Linked DNA regions of Homo sapiens: region 1 is linked to region 2. The links come from fine-mapping of genetic effects on gene expression. Tissue or cell type: whole blood. Region 2 holds a variant in brackets; the other region holds the start of a gene. All regions are shown on one strand. Distances are between the middles of the regions.

Region 1 (8,338 bases), 22 kb after region 2:
CACAGGTGTGTGCCACTGCACCCAGCTAATGCTTTTATTTTCTGTAAAGACAGGATCTCACTATGTGGTCAAGCCTGGTCTTGAACTCCTGGGCTCACACAATTTTCCTGCCTCAGCCTCCCAAAATGTTGGGATTACAGGTGTGAGATGCACCAGAAACCCTTAAACTTCTTAAAAATCCCTTAAGTCCTCTTGGTTTTACAGGAAAGTAGGAGCTTGGATTTTAGTTTGATCATAGGAAACAAGTAGATTGTTATTCATTCAACAAAAAATATTTATGATAAACATTTTTCAGGCTATCCATTTATTTAATAGGTCTTTATTACATATTTACTGCTGTCAAATGTTTTGGGGCCAGAGGTGAATTATGCTAGTTTGGAAACTAGGTGGAATATTATCATTTAAATGGATACCTTTGTATCTCAAAACAAATCCTGTAGTTTATATAATTTGGAATATTGTATGTCTGTTTTCCATGGAAATGATGAAGTTCATTGGTCATGGTACTCTTGGGTCATGGGACTCACACTCACTTTGCTCTTACCTCTTTCTTATTTTCACATGCATCCCATCGACACTCATGTCTAATCCAGAAGACTGGTAGTATATAAGATCCCAAATATTACCACTGGCTCAGAATCTGAGCCAATGAATGGAGAGACTATGTCATACTTGAAATAAACTTCTTTAACAATAAAAATTAAGAGTATAAGTTCTCTCATTTCATCTCAGTTTCATCAAATATTTCATGTTTAAAATGCTAGCAAGTGTGAAAGAGGCTATGGAATTTTGTGAGTGATAAAATATTTGTAGAGTACTTGGGGATCTGGATCTGGGTGCTATTAAAACCAACCAAACACAAGTAGCTCATATGAGTCCTTCAATTTTTATTCTTGCTTCCAACTTTTAATCTTCCAGCACTGCCAAAACATGGAACTAGGCAGATTTATAGCAATTCTGGTAGATGTTTGTTAGGAACTGATTTCGTACAACACTCTTGGCAATAAAACTATAGTTTTCTAAACTTGACATTTAGCATGTCCTTTATCTTATAAGAAGAAAAATACTTCTGTTGTTCTGTTGGAGTAGGTTAGCTTATAAAAATAAAGTGATGCATCTTTATATGTTTTTAACGTGTCCAACTTTGCCAGGCATGGTGGTTCATGCCTCTAATCCCAAGCACATTGGTAGGCCGAGGCAAGAGGATCTCTTGAGCCTAGGAGTTCAAGACTGCAGTGTGCTATGATGGCATCATTGCACTCCAGCCTCAGCGACAGAGACTCTGTCTCTTAAGTTAGTAAGTAAATAAATAAAATGTTCAACTTAAAATAAAATTACAATTTCTTTTCTAGCAGCTAGGTGAAATTTCTTAACTATTAACCTCTGGTACTTTAAACAACATTAAAACAGCCTTTAAAAGAAGACATTAATTAATTGAGGAAAGATTTTAAAATAATTTTTTCCAAGTTTTAATTTTTAAATCCCTAAAGAACCACATATTCTTGTACCATCCAGGTTTATAAAAATGCAGCTATCAAATTTGATATTAAAAACAAGATACCGCACACCCTTTGTGGAATAAAGCACAGTATAAAGAAAATTAGAATGTCATGACCATTCTTCTTCAATCTTTCCCATTTGTAATATTTCCCCCAAGCGGAAAAGCCTGACAAATTTCCCTTTCTTGCACGTGACCACTTTTTGCATCAGATGCATTTAATTTTGTAGGTTAAATATTCAGGACAAAAGGAGAGTAGAAAGAATTTTTAGAGCTTTGATTTCTATGGAAGCAATAAGCTGAAACTTGGAAATAATATGTTTCATTGCCATCAATCCCATTGTAGCTAGCTAACACTCCAGGGATTTCCTTGATTCTCTCTATAATAATCTTATACTTCTATAGTGCTTATAATTTGCAACCTGTGTTCACTTACTTTATGAGATTCTTACAAAAATCTTTTGAAAGAAGGCTAGTGTGTATGTATATGTGGGTGTATGAATATACATATATATGTGTATATGTTTGTCTATACATATACATATGTGTGTGTATGACATATATATGTATATAGTCATCCCTCATTGTCCACAGGGGATCGGTTCCAGAACCCCCTCAGACACCAAAATTTCCAGATGCTTAAGTTTTTTATATAAAATGACTAATTGGTCAATTCTTCTTGGTAAAGTTGATCTTGATCTTACCAGTTTCTTTTTTGGCTTAGTAATAGGAACAATGATTTTCATAATTTAGGGGACCAAAAGTAAAATTTCAGTTTAAGTCATTTTAGGAATAAACCATGGAGCTATAAATCTTTTGGAGGAGTTATAGATTCAGTGTTAATGCTAGAGTATTGCAGTATATTAATACAACAGATAGTTCTGAAAAGTTGCTTTAGAAAAATGTTTCAGCTAAAGTGACCCAATACCAAATTCTGTACAGTTACCCTCTATTTTGTAAATGCATATGTTAATATCAAAGTATTTATATTGTGTAATTTCCTACCTTAGGTGCTTTTGTTTTTAATATAATGCTGTTTCAAGGTCGAATATGTACAGTAATAACTGTTACAAATTGATTACGAGAGATCACAATCATTGTACAAATCACAGGCTATGTCATTGTGTAGACAAAAATCACTGACCATGCATGCCAGAGGTGGATCATAAATAGTAACTCCTAAGACTAGAAATCTACTTGATATTTTTATGGGTTCATCTTTAAAAGTGACCTCGCTGAATAAAAGTTCAATATTTCTTAAAAGAAAGGTAAATCTAAAAACCGTCCAGAATTTTCGATCCTAGTCTAGTACCACTTACTTGGGAACAAATATAGAAGCACAGGCAACCCCGTCCGTTAATTTGGCTCCGTCATTGTGCAGACAAAAATCACTGACCATGCATGCCAGAGGTGGATCATAGTTAACTCGTTAAGACTAGAAATCTACTTGATAGTGATTTTTATGGGTTCATCTTTAAAAGTGACCTCGCTGAATAAAAGTTCAATATTTCTTAAAAGAAAGGTAAATCTAGAAAGCTGTCCAGAATTTTCAATCCTAGTCTAGTACCACTTACTTGGGAACAAATATAGAAACACAGGCAACCCCGTCCGTTAATTCTGATGTTGAACGTGTGGTTAGAGAGCACACTGCGATATGTTACAGGACCTGAGATAAAAAGCAAATTTGTAAAGTGTCTAAGTGTTGATGGAGAAAAACACATCTAGCATATACGGAAATTTTCTTTTGAGTTCTCTGTAGGATGATCACCAACTCAGTAGGTGAAGCCCTGCCCTCTAGTGGTTATGGGTGTGAGAGGACTTCTGTTCAACATTATATGTCTGGCTCACCACGGTTTATTAAAACCAATCGTTCATTAAAAAGCACTTATTAGGGGTCTGGGTAAGATGCCGAGCAAGTGAAATGTTTACGTGTGAAAAGGCATTGACACTGGACAAAGGTACAGCTGCTAAAAGAAGTGCTCGTTCATTGGCTTCGACAGCTGTACGACTGGTTTCTAATTGCTGTTCCAGCCTCTCCCCAGTTCCATATACCACAAACGAATGAAAAAGATTAGCTCTCCCTGGAGCTCTCTGAGGCTGAACCTTGCTCTCTCATTACACATGGTAACTAAGCACACCCCTTAAAGAATTTTGGGAAGTCGCCCCGCGATTACCGGCTCCCCCAAGAACCAAGCAGTCAGTGCAGGGTTTTGCAAGTGAGAGTGCGAGACTCGGGAGGCTGCTCACGGTGCTCCAGTCCCTGGCAGGAGCATGGACACCTCGCCCCTTCCTTCCGTGGGCCTCAACGTTGCCTGCTGAGATTGTGACTGCCACCCCGACGGGAGCAGCTTCCCCTACAGACTTTGTAGAGAGCGCTTAAACGCCTCGGGGACAGCGGCCATGACTCTCAGCTTGGGCCGACCCCGCGGCCGCCCCACGGGAATGCGTGGCCGACACGGGGCGTGGGCGAATCTCCGACCCTCGCGTTCAGGGGGTGCATATAAACGGGCGGACACCGTCCCTGGGGTAAGGGAGGCGCCAGCAAGAACAAGGCGGGCCACCAACCCCGAGCGACCTCCTACCGGACGGATCCAAACCCAAACATTGTCCATTCCGGGCCGAAGTCTCGGCCTTCACTTCACTTCCGCCTTCCCAGCCCGTGAACACGAATGCGCCTGCGCGCACCTCTCTCAGCGGAAGTAATAGTGACAAAGCTGGGTTCGCGGCTGGCCCAGGAGTGCGGGGCGCGACTGGGCGGCCGGCGGCGGGGAGGGGCGGAGCGCAGGAGTCGGAGGCGGGAGCAGACCAGCACGGCCTCGCGGAGCCGGCCCGGCGGACCGTGACGGGTCCCCTCACCTCCTCTTCTCTCCCCTCCCCGCCCGCCCTCTCTCCCTCCCTTCCTCCCTCCCGCTCGCTTCTTCTCACGCCGGGAGCAGGCTCCCGCCTCGCACCGCTGCCCCGCGAGCAGCTCCTCTTCTCCCGAGGCGCGCGGGGCGCCCCCGCGAGCCCCGCGGCTGAGACCCCGCAGCCTGGAGGAGGGCTGTCCGGGGCTTTGGGTGGGTACCAGTATTACCTCCTGCCCCCATTTCTAGAAACTTCCAGGTTCTGAAGGAAGGGGAGGTTCGGGTATCCCCTGGATGGGGGGGCATCTCTAGGGCGCCGCCCCGCTGGCGTGAGCTGGGGACGTTGCGGGCACACGACGGGGCGGGTGCGGGATCTTGGGGAGGGGGGCTCCCGAGATAGTGGCTGGGCGGGGAACTCCTTCCTCAGCCTCTCGTCAGCGCCGCTTCTCCTGGTTTCTCTTGCAGATGCTGCTGCTAGGGGTGGTGGGAGCAGCCGTGGGACGCGTGGCCGGGAGCGGGGGTGACAGCCTGGGATTCCGGGGGCTTCTCTTCCTTGTCCTCCTCCTCTCCTCTCTATTCCCAGTGTGGCCGTGGCTGACACTAAAGACTTTGTAGCCATCAACCCGAGTGCAGTTTCGATGGAAAATGAAGGTAAAGGCCCCTGGCCGACCGGTTGCAACGCGGAGTTGAGGGTGTGGTGGTTTGCTTTTAAGTTGTCTTTGTTTTTCCACCTTTTTATTTTCGTGAGCTTATTTATTTACTGTGTATGTGAAGTGTCCAAGGATTTGCTTACTTAGGGTATCCAGCTTTTATTTTGGTAACATGGGGCATTTGAGAGATTGAGGTTCTGTGGGTGACTGAGCTTGATTCAGCTTTCTTGAGGAATTCCTGCTCTCTTCAGCTTAGGGAATGAGAGGGAAGTTTTCATTTCAGATAGCGTCTGTGCATGTTTAAATAGCTATTTGAAAGGAATTACTCGAGGGGAAGTGGAAATGGGGGACAAGGGGATGGGGCTGCATCTCTGTATATTGGCGTTTCAAGCCTCGATGTGGTGTGTGGCAGGATTCATTTATAAGAAAGCAAGCCATGTTTTATTATGTCTAGCATTGGGGAAAAAACTCATTATTTTTCAATTCACAAAAAAAACCCAGTGAATTTAATGAAATGTTATGAGATGAGTGCTTTTCTTAAAGTTCCACCCTATTTCAAAACATCATTTAGGAGGCTGACAGCGGAACCTGTTTGTTCACTGTACACTTTGGACACATTAGATCGTCATTCACATGTTACATGATCCCTTTGGCCTCGTTAAAATATTTAATGCTTTTCCTACACAGCACTGATTATTTTTAAAATTGTTGAACAACTGTGAATAAGTGATTTTTTTTCCCCCTCCTGAAACAACACTTATTCTTTGGACTGACTTCTGACTTGTGCGTGATCATTTTTTTTTCTTCTGCCTTTAACCGGGCTGCAAAATACTATAAAAGATACTTAACAAATGACAGTTTTTTCCTCTGGTATAATTTGTTTTAAAAAATATGTGTCTGGTATAAAGGAGCTGCAGTCTTGCTGGCTGCTTCTAATTTGTTTTTCCATTGTTGAGAATGTAAGCTTGATTGTCTGACTAGGACTAGTAATTTTGAAATGGGTGTTTCTTATAGATGCAGTAATGTGTTTTGCTCTCTGAGACCTCTGGGCTATGTAGGGAATATGATGAGAGGCATGATTATATTGACAAATTTTACTCTGGATGGATAATTGGCGGAAGACATTTTCTGAAATACTAAAGTGTATAACTGCAGAGGAGTTATACTGTCTAATTGGGTCTTGAGAAACATTTGAAAGCAGTGATGTTTTTGGTGATAAGGAAAGTCACTTTTCTGAGCCTTTTTCCTCTCTTTTAAGTTTATTGATTTAAGAAAGGCAAATCCATTCTGCACATGAGACAAAGAATGTTAAATGCATTCATATACTTGTTTCTTGGTAGAAACATCTTAAATAACTTCTAACATTTAATGTATGTTTATGAGCTTGTTTTCAGAATGGTACCAGATTTAAGAGGGTAGCCTAAAGTAGGTGGATTCTTTCATGTTGCTTTTGTTTCTTGATCTCTCAGGAGGAAGAGCATGAGTAATAAAGCCGATTCTCATTATCTACTGAGGTGGGAGGGGGTGGTTGTGAGATAGGAGAATGGTGCCTACTTGTGTCTGTCTCTGTATTTTGTGGCCAAATATGAATTTTGTGGTTTCATAGTAAAAGATTATACAGTTCTTAAAAACGTGTGGGGTTTTCTGTCCCGTTATTCTTGACCATCAAGAGACCATTTTTGTCAGTTTCTCCCTATCGTCACATTTTTTTTTATATATAAACAGTTTGAAGAAGAGCCTGTATATAGCCTAGAAATTTTCAAAAGTGACTGACCATATTAAACTACATAGATTGATACCTGTGCCTTTTTATTGTTCACTTGCCTTTTTGTAGTTTTCATCCTTCTTTGATATAGTGTAGTATTAACAATTTGGAGGTGTGAAACAAAAATGGATTCAAGTCTTGACTAACTTGTCTTGAACCACTTAAAGCTGTGTGATTTTAAGTAAATTACGTCACCTTTCTGAGCCTGTATTTCTTCATCTATAAATTGGGATTGATAATCTTTAACTCACAGAATTGAGAGGATTAAATGAGAAACCCTGTATAAATTCTCTTGTGAGGTAGGAATGATAACGTTTAAGAGCTTGAGTTGTGGTGGAACCATGCAGACTGATTTGAATGCTGGATTCGTCGCTTACCATTTGGCTTTGTGCATATTAAAGTTTTCTGTGCTTCCGTTTCTTCATAAAATAAAGATAATGATAGAACCTACCTTATGAGGTTGTTGTAAACATTCAAACAGTATCTGGCACATAGTAAGTGCTCGGTAAATGTTAATTATAAATTGCCTAGCTGAATGTTTGATACATACTAATAGGCCACCTGGCATTAATATTGTCATGACAGTTAAATGTTGGAAGGGGGAACAGTAGTAGCCAAATGCTCAAAATGAAGTTGTCATTGTTAGTTGAGGGATAAGTGGAGTTAGGTAAGGAATTTTCTATGGCATTAGTGCTTTTAAGCCTACAGAAAAAGTTAGGGCTCTACCAAGAAGCCAGGGTCCAGTACAGAAAGAGACAGGTTTGGATTTGAAGCCCGACAAGTAATGTTTTCCTCTCCTGAAAAATCTGACAAGTTACTAGGCTTCTAAGCTTTCTCAGCCTCTAAGTTATCTCATCTGTAAATGAGATAATGCCCTCTTGCAAAGTTGATGTGAGTAATAAATGAAGCCGCCAGAGCAATGTTTGACATACAGTTAACTTGGATGAATTGAGTGATGCTGCTGTTCCCTAGTAAGAGTATCCTCCAGTAGGTATGCAGGTAGTTACATTTGTGGGTGTGAACAGTGTAGAATTGATAGTGTTTCCCTAGAGCATCAGCATGAAGGTTTCTTAGGTAGCTTACAGTGGTGTGGGGAGGAAATGGTTTCATCCATGTGTTGGTTCCTTCAGCAATGGTGGTATTTTCTTTGGCACTTCGGTTTAGATTCTTCTGGACTTTTTTCCTAGGGCCCATTTAAACTTTCTCAGCAAAGCTTGACCAATTTTTAGCTGTAGACTCCAGGATGTTTCATGAACACTTTCTGCTTGTCACTAGGAACGTTTAAAATGTTAATTTCCTGGAATTTTTGGACTACTTAACATTCAGTCGTGAGTTAGGATTTTATCCAGATCCTTTGGAATTTGTTTTTACATGTTTATCACAAATCTAAACAGATCCCGCTTAGGCATCTTGAGATGCACAAGTAAACAGCTCTTACCTGATTTTTAAAAGTTAATTGCATGTTTAAAGTGATAGCTTACTAGAAAAGATATGTCTAGCTGGAGAAGCTTGCACATAGGTTTTCCTTTCTAGTAATGGATTTATTTTTTGGAATAAATTTGGCCTTTCCCATAGAAAATTC
Region 2 (8,338 bases):
GTGAGGGGCTCCTCTGCCCGGCCGCCCCTACTGGGAAGTGAGGACCCCTCTGCCCGGCCAGCCGCCCCATCCGGGAGGGAGGTGGGGGGGTCAGCCCCCCGCCCGGCCAGCTGCCCTGTCCGGGAGGTGAGGGGCTCCTCTGCCTGGCCGCCCCTACTGGGAAGTGAGGAGCCCCTCTGCCCGGCCAGTCGCCCCGTCCAGGAGGGAGGTGGGGGGGTCAGCCCCCGGCCTGGCCAGCCGCCCAGTCCGGGAGGGAGGTGGGGGGTCAGCCCCCCGCCTGGCCAGCCGCCCCGTCCGGGAGGTGAGGGGCGCCTCTGCCCGGCCGCCCCTACTGGGAAGTGAGGAGCCCCTCTGCCCGGCCAGCCGCCCCGCCCGGGAGGGAGGTGGGGGGTCAGCCCCCCGCCTGGCCAGCCGCCCCGTCCGGGAGGTGAGGGGCGCCTCTGCCCGGCCGCCCCTACTGGGAAGTGAGGACCCCTCTGCCCGGCCAGCCGCCCCGTCCGGGAGGGAGGTGGGGGGGGACAGCCCCCCGCCCGGCCAGCCGCCCTATCCAGGAGGTGAGGGGCGCCTCTGCCCGGCCGCCCCTACTGGGAAGTGAGGAGCCCCTCTGCCTGGCCAGCCGCCCCGTCCGGGAGAGTGGTGGGGGGGTCAGCCCCCCGCCCGGCCAGCCGCCCCATCCGGGAGGTGAGGGGCGCTTCTGCCCCGCCGCCCCTACTGGGAAGTGAGGAGCCCCTCTGCCCGGCCACCACCCCGTCTGGGAGGTGTGCCCAGCGGCTCATTGGGGATGGGCCATGATGACAATGGCGGTTTTGTGGAATAGAAAGGCGGGAAGGGTGGGGAAAAAATTGAGAAATCGCATGGTTGCCGGGTCTGTATGGATAGAAGTAGACATGGGAGACTTTTCATTTTGTTCTGTACTAAGAAAAATTCTTCTGCCTTGGGATCCTGTTGATCTGTGACCTTATCCCCAACCCTGTGCTCTCTGAAACATGTGCTGTGTCCACTCAGGGTTAAATGGATTAAGGGCGGTGCAAGATGTGCTTTGTTAAACAGATGCTTGAAGGCAGCATGCTCGTTAAGAGTCATCACCACTCCCTAATCTTAAGTACCCAGGGACACAAACACTGCGGAAGGCCGCAGGGTCCTCTGCCTAGGAAAATCAGAGACCTTTGTTCACTTGTTTATCTGCTGACCTTCCCTCCACTATTGTCCTATGACCCTGCCAAATCCCCCTCTGCGAGAAACACCCAAGAATGATCAATAAAAAATAAAAAAAAAAAAAAAAAAAAAAAAAAAAAAGAAATGATTAAGCTTAATGAGGAAGCATGTTGAAAGCTGAGGTAGGCTGAAAGCTAGGCCTCATGCATCAGTTAGCCAAGTTGTCAATACAAAGGAAAATTCTTGAAGGAAATTAAAAGTGCTACTCCAGTGAACACACAAATGATAAGAAAGCTAAACAGTATTTTTGCTAATGTGCAGGAAGTTTGAGCGGTCTGGATACAAGACCAAACCAGGCATACCATTCCTTTAGGCCAAAGTCTAATTCAGAGTAAGTCTCTAACTCTCTTGAATTCTGTGAAGGTTGAGAGAGGAGGGTTAGCTGCAGAAGAAAAGTTTGAATATAGCAGAGGTTGGTTCTTGAGGTTTAAGGAAAGAAGCAATCTCCATAACATAAAAGTACAAGGTGAAGCAGCAAGGAGTGATGGAGAAGTGGCAGCAAGTAATCCAGAAGACCTAGCTAAGATCATTGATGAAGGTGGCTATACTAAATAATAGATTTTCAATGTGGATAAAAAGCCACAGGCTGACTTTCTTGTTTGGAACCAGTACAGCTGTTGACTTTAAGTTGAAGCCAATGATGATTTATCATTCTGAAAATTCTAGGTCCCTAAAGAATGATGCTAAATCTACTTTGCTTGTGCTCTATCAATGGAACAACAGAGCCTGTAGGACAGCAGATCCATTTATAGCATGGCTTACTGAATATTTTAAGCCCACTGTTGAGACCTCAAAAAAAAAAATAGATTCCTTTCAAAATATTACTGCTCTTCACAGTGCAGCTAGTCACCCAAGAGCTCTGACATGAGGTAAAAGGAGAATAATGTTTTCATGTCTGCTGTCTGTTCTGCAGTCCATGGATCAAGGAAGAATTTTAACTTTCAAGTCTTATTATTTAAGAAACACATTTCATAAGGCTATAGCTACCATAGATAGTGATTCCTCTGATGGATCTGGGCAAAGTAAACTGAAAACTTTCCAGAGAGGATTCACCATTCTAGGTGTCACTAAAAACATTTGTGATTCATGAAAGGAGGACAAAGTGTCAACATTAACAGGAGTTTAGAAGAAGTTGATTCCAACCCTCATGGATGACTTTGAGGGATTCAAGACTTCAGTGGAGGAAGTAAGTACAGATGTGGTAGAAAGGGCAAGATAACTAGAAGTGGATCCTGAAGATGTTACTGAATTGCTGCAATTTCATGATAAACGTTGAACAGATGAGGAATTGCTTCCTCATAAGAAAACACAGAAAATGTTTTCTTATGATAGAACCTATTGCTGGGTAGATATGCTGTGAACATTGTTGAAATGATGACAAAGGATTTAGAGTATTTTATAAACTGAGGTGATAAAGCAGTGGCAGGGTTTGAGAGGACTGACTCCAATTTTGAAAGAGGTTCTACTATGCTACTAAACAGCATCAGACAATACAGAGAAATCATTTGTGCAAGGAAGAGTCAATTGATGCACCAAACTTTATTATTGTTTTATTTTAGGAAATTGCCACCGCCACTTCAACTTTCAGCAACCACCGCCCTGATCAGTCAATAGCCATTAACGTCAAGGCGAGATCCCCTACCAGCCAAAATATTATGACTCATTGATGGTTCAGATGATCATTAACATTCTTTAGCAATAAAGTATTTTTTAACTAAGGTATATACATTTTTTTAGACTTGCTATTGAATACTTAATAGACTACAATACAGTGTAAACATAAATTTTGTATGCACTGGGAAACCAAAAAATTTGTGTGACTTTCTGTATTGTGATATTTGCTTTATTGTGGTGGTCTCAAACCAAGCTCACAATATCTCTGAGTTATCCCTGTACATTCTTATTCACTCTTAGAATTGAGTACTATTGGCATGATCAAAATATTTTTAGATGAAAGCTTAATGCTTCTTGTAAACAGTGCTGAAACTTTAGCATGCATTGGAATCACCTAAAGGACTAATTAAAACAGAATGCTGGGCCCCACCTCCAGAGTTTCTAATACAGTAGGACTGAGGTGGGGCCCAAGAGTCTGCATTTCTAAAAAAATTCCAGGTGGGAGGGACCACACTTTCAGAACCACTGTTGCAGATCATTTGATGATGTATATTTCCAAAATCAAAGCTGACAGGGCTTGTCATACCTACTCAAGAATAGCATGTATGCTGCTTAGAAGATGGTAAGTCATTGTCAAAGCCAGAGGGATACTAATGATGACTTAGAGTTTCACAGGTTCTTAATTGACCATTTTCATTCACCTTGGCTGATGCCTAGTGTTACTTAATGCTTAGTAAGAAATCTTTAGGCCAGGGGCGGTGGCTCACCCCTATAATCCCAAACTTTGGGAGGCAGAGGCCGGCGGATCAGCTGAAGTAAGGAGTTCCAGACCAGCCTGGCCAATGTGGTGAAACCCCATCTCTATTAAAAAGTACAAAAATTAGCCAGGCGTGCTGGCGCGTGCCTATAACCCCTGTTACTCTGGAGGCTGGGGCTGGAGAATTGCTTGAACCTGGGAGGCAGAGGTTGCAGTGAGCGGAGATCATGCCACTGCATTCCAGCCTGGGCAACAGGAGTGAAACTCTGTCT[CA/C]AAAAAAAAAAAAAAAAAAATCTTTAAGCAATGTCTTGGCCCTAAGAATATAATCTAAAATATGTTCTTATGTTTATATCATCTTCGATAGCTGATTAAAGTGATGTAGCAACTGAGAATTTCAATTGTTGATTTAAATCATGGAATATACAAAAAGATATAATCCTTGTTAGGTCCTGCATACTTTCTAAAGCCATTATGAGGTCTTAATTAAAAGAAACAAAGAATAAAACCCTCATTTTTTCCCTAGCCCTTACTCTGCTTATTGTTTAAACATAATTATAAAGACTCTGAATAACAAAAATTTAACTGGAAAGATGAAATCAGTATTCTTAATACTACTTAGTGGCTTTTAGGTTTAGGACATATGTTTAATATGTATTCTGTTGATTTTTCAATAGATCATGTTAATTAACATGTCTCAATTACCTATTGAATAATGTCTCTAAAATGCCTATCTGTGATTATTATTCATGAGATTACACTCCCATTTTACCAGTACTATGCCTATCTGTGATTATTATTCATGAGACTACACTCCCATTTGAGGAGTACTTTTCTTTTCTTTTTTTTTTTTTTAAAGATGGGGTCTTACTCTGTCACCCAAGCTGGAGTGCAGTGGCACGAAATCGGCTCACTGCAACCTCCGCCTCCTGGGTTCAAGCGATTCTCCTGCCTTAGCCTCCCGAGTAGCTGTGATTACGGGCACCTACCACCACACCTGGCTAATTTTTGTATATTTAGTAGAGACGGAGTTTCACCATTTTGGCCAGGCTAGTCTTGAACTCCTGACCTTGTGATCTACCTGCCTCGGCCTCCCAAAGTGCTGGGATTACAGGTGTGAGCCACTGCGCCCAGCTTGAGCAGTACTTTTCAACTCTGAGAAGATAAACCCAAGGGATTCTAGAAGAGGGTCTGCTTGGAGAATAATTTCTCCAGTAATGGTATCTGAAGGTTGAATAAAAACAAGTGAATAGATGTAGATATTGACTAAGAGTGACTAAGAAAGACAGTTACCTTATTAATTAATACAATCTTGAGTGTCATCAAATTAGCTATGGGGCATATATCCTACACTCAGAAATTAGGCACTATTAAAGTTAAAGGGGGCCACACTGAATTGAAAGAGGCAAGAATTTAACAAACAAAATGATAAACTACAAAAGGTAACTAAATAAACAGAGCAGCTTCTTATATATTCTCCAATAAGGCATTGTGGAAACATTGAGGGATGGAGGGATACCCAAGCCAAGATGGGTATTAGACTGCTAACTTTGACATTAAACACTGAGAAATTCTTGAGCAGGGAGCTTCCTTTGTATGAGTCTCATCTTCATCACCTTTAAGAAGCAATTAATGAAATCTAGTCTGCTTACTTCGCAATGTTTTGAGCATTAAATTTAATTATATACAAATATGTACTTTTGGTGTCTGTTCAGTGAGAATTGATTCTCACTTCCCTAAAAGTAATTTAAACGTTTTAATCAAATGTGTAATGTTGACATCTTTACCTTTCCAAGTACTTTTGTACTTTTCCAGGGTTAAAATAACATTTTTGTCATTTAAATGAGGAAAAAATATAAGTTTTTTAAAAACTCAAATGTCATAGCTTTTTAACTGTTCTAATTGTGTCTGCTAATAGAAACAAGTTGATGTGCAAACCACAAAATAATAAATATTTTTGCCTAGCTTTTGGGAAAAAGAAAAGACTATAGTATACTTTAAGTAAGTGTAAATTTAGTTTCATTTTAGCAATTCCATAGTCGAATCTGTCACTAAGTAATCATTAGTTAAAGAAAAAAAATCTAGCCAGGCACCGTGGCTCACCCCTGTAATCCCAGCACTTTGAAAGGCTGAGGTGGGCAGATCACAAGGTCAGGAGTTCTAGACCAGCCTGACCAACATGGTGAAACCCCGTCTCTACTAAAAATACAAAAATTAGCCCGGCATGGTGGCGGGTGCCTGTAATCCCAGCTACTCAGAAGGCTGAGGCAGGAGAATCGCTTGAACCCAGGAGGCAGAGGTTGCAGTGAGCTGAGATTACACCACTGCACTCCTGCCTGGGTGACAGAACGAGACTCTGTCTCAAAAAAAAAAAAGAAAAAAAGAAAAAGAAAAGATAAGAAAAAAATCTAGTGCCCAGGGCATGCAACTATATAAGTAAAAATTCTAAAAGATCATCAATGTTTAAGAATAAAATACAGTCAGTTATATAATTTTAAAATATTTCTAATGAGTGATAAGGAAAACTTGTCAATGGAATTTCTGAAGTCAATAGCCAATTTTTAACTTTATCTGCTAATATGGCAATTATTTAACTTAAAAAACAGACACACTTCTTATTCAGTTTTTGGACATCTTATTCTGTAACTTCCTATTGATTAACATCGCCTTTAACATTTTAAGTACTTGTCGTAACATTTTATCATTTGAATAATTCATATTGTATTATACTCTTCACTTTTATAGGAACAATCATCAACCAACATTTTAACCTATTAATCTAAACTAAATTTTTTCCTCTCATTTAATCTATCAATTAAGATTCTTCTGATTGTATGTAACAGAAAATGTAGTTCATTTATTATCTCACATTAGAGGAAGTCTAGTGGTAGGGCAGGCCCCAGAGTTGGTTTATTTGTTAGCTTAATTATGTATTAAAGGACTTGGCTTCTTCGAGTCACTACTTTGCCATTCTTAGTATTGTCTTTTCTCAGGGGAAGGGTAGAAGGAGGGATAAAAAGGTGGCTGCTGTACTTCCAAGCATTCAGAATCATTGAAAAGTCTTGCTAAATCAGACTGCTGCATCTAATCCCCAGAATTTGATTCAGTAGGACTCGCCGGAGTGTGAGAATTTGCATTTCTAATAAATTCCCAGGTGATGCTGATGCTGCTCATAGTAAAGCCACACTGAGAAATATTAACTTAGACTAATGATCTTGGAAACGAATGGATTTTTTCTTTTCTTTTTAGTTCACATGTAATAGTTGTATTTATTTATGCAACACAGAATGATATTTTGATACATCTGTACTATGTGTAATCATCAAGTAAGGGCAATTAGCATATCCCTCACCTCAAAAATTTATGATTTCTTTTTGTTGGGAACATTCCAAATCCTCTCTTCCAGTTTTTTAAAAATATGCAGTAAATTGTTGTTAACTATACTCATCCCACAGTGCTATAAAACACTGTAATGTATTTCTCCTATCTAGCTGTAATTTTGTATCCATTAACCAACCTCTCCCTATTCCTCCCCTCCAACTACATTTACCAGCCTCTAGTAACCACTATTCTACTATTTACTTCTATGAGTTCAACTTTTGAGCTCATGTATGGGTGTGAACATGTGTTATTTATCTTTTTGTGCCTTATTTATTTCACTTAACATAACATCCTCCAGGTTCATCCATGTTGCCATGAATGACAGGACTTAATTCTTATTTATAACTGAATCGTTTTCTATTGTGTATATATACCACATTTTCTCTATCCAGTCATCTGTTGATGGACTTGTAGTTTGATTCCATTATCTTGGCTATTGTGGATAATGCTACAATAAACATGGGGGTGTAGATACCTCTTCAATATACTGATTTGCTTTTCTTTGGATAGGTACCCGGTAGTGCTGAATCACATGATAGTTCTATTTTTAGTTTTTTGAGGAACCTCCATACTGTTTTCCATAACGGCTGTACAAATTTACAATCACACTAATACTGTATGAGTTTCCCTTCTTCTGTATCCTCACTGGCATTTGTTAGTTTTTGTCTTTTTGACAATAGTCATTCTAACAAGTGTGAGGTGATATCTCATCGTGGTTTTGATTTGCATTTCTCTGATGATTAGTGATGTCGAGTGTTTTTTTTTTTTATGTACTTGTTGGCCATTTGCTTTGAGAAGTGTCTTTAGATCATTTGCCCATTTTTAAATCAAAATATTTGAGTTTTTTTTGGAGTTATTTTTTGAGCTGTTGGTTTTTTTCAGTTCCTTGTATATCCTGGATATTTTGTCAGGTAAATAGTTTGCAAATATTTATTTCCATTCTACAGGTTGTCTCTTCATTTTGTTGATGATACTCTTTGTTGTGCAGAGGCTTTTAGTTTGATATAGTACCACTTGTCTATTTTTATTTTTGTTCCCTGTACTCTTGAAGTCTTACCCATAAAATTTTTTCCTAGACCAATGTCCAGAAGCATTTTCCCTGTTTTCTTCTAGTAGTTTTAGGGCTTTGTGTCTTACATTTAATTATTTAATCCATATTGGGTTCATTTTTATATATGCTGAGAGTTAGGGGTCTAATTTAATTCTTCTTTAATATGAATATCCAGTTTTCCCAACACCATTTATTGAAAAGGATGTTCTTTCACTAGTGTATGTTCTTGTCTTCTTTTCTGAAAATTAGTTGGCTGTAAATAGTTGGATTCATTTCTAGGTCCTCTATTCTGTTCTATTTGTCCTTGTTTCTGTTTTTATCTT

Evidence for each region. PIP is the estimated chance that this variant, and not a neighbour inherited with it, causes the effect.
Region 1: it holds the start of ATP2C1, and the variant in region 2 is fine-mapped to the expression of ATP2C1 in whole blood (INTERVAL, PIP 0.98).

What each region holds. Positions count from the first base shown.
Region 1 is chr3:130,889,784-130,898,121 of GRCh38, forward strand. It overlaps ATP2C1 (ATPase secretory pathway Ca2+ transporting 1), which reads left to right and starts at 4,301. Exons shown (of 28, transcript NM_001378687.1): 1 at 4,301-4,554; 2 at 4,807-4,992. The coding sequence starts at 4,987. It overlaps LOC107986023 (a long non-coding RNA gene), which reads right to left and starts at 4,138. Exons shown (of 3, transcript XR_001740492.2): 1 at 3,073-4,138. RefSeq lists an enhancer at 3,856-4,075 and a silencer at 4,166-4,555.
Region 2 is chr3:130,868,164-130,876,501 of GRCh38, forward strand. The region is part of intron 1 of LOC107986023 (a long non-coding RNA gene); the gene reads right to left. It also overlaps a transcript of ATP2C1 not described here. Among named protein-coding and RNA genes, the nearest start is that of ATP2C1, 22 kb to the right of the region's middle. RefSeq lists an enhancer at 633-1,521. The variant CA/C (reference allele first, on the strand shown) is at 3,859.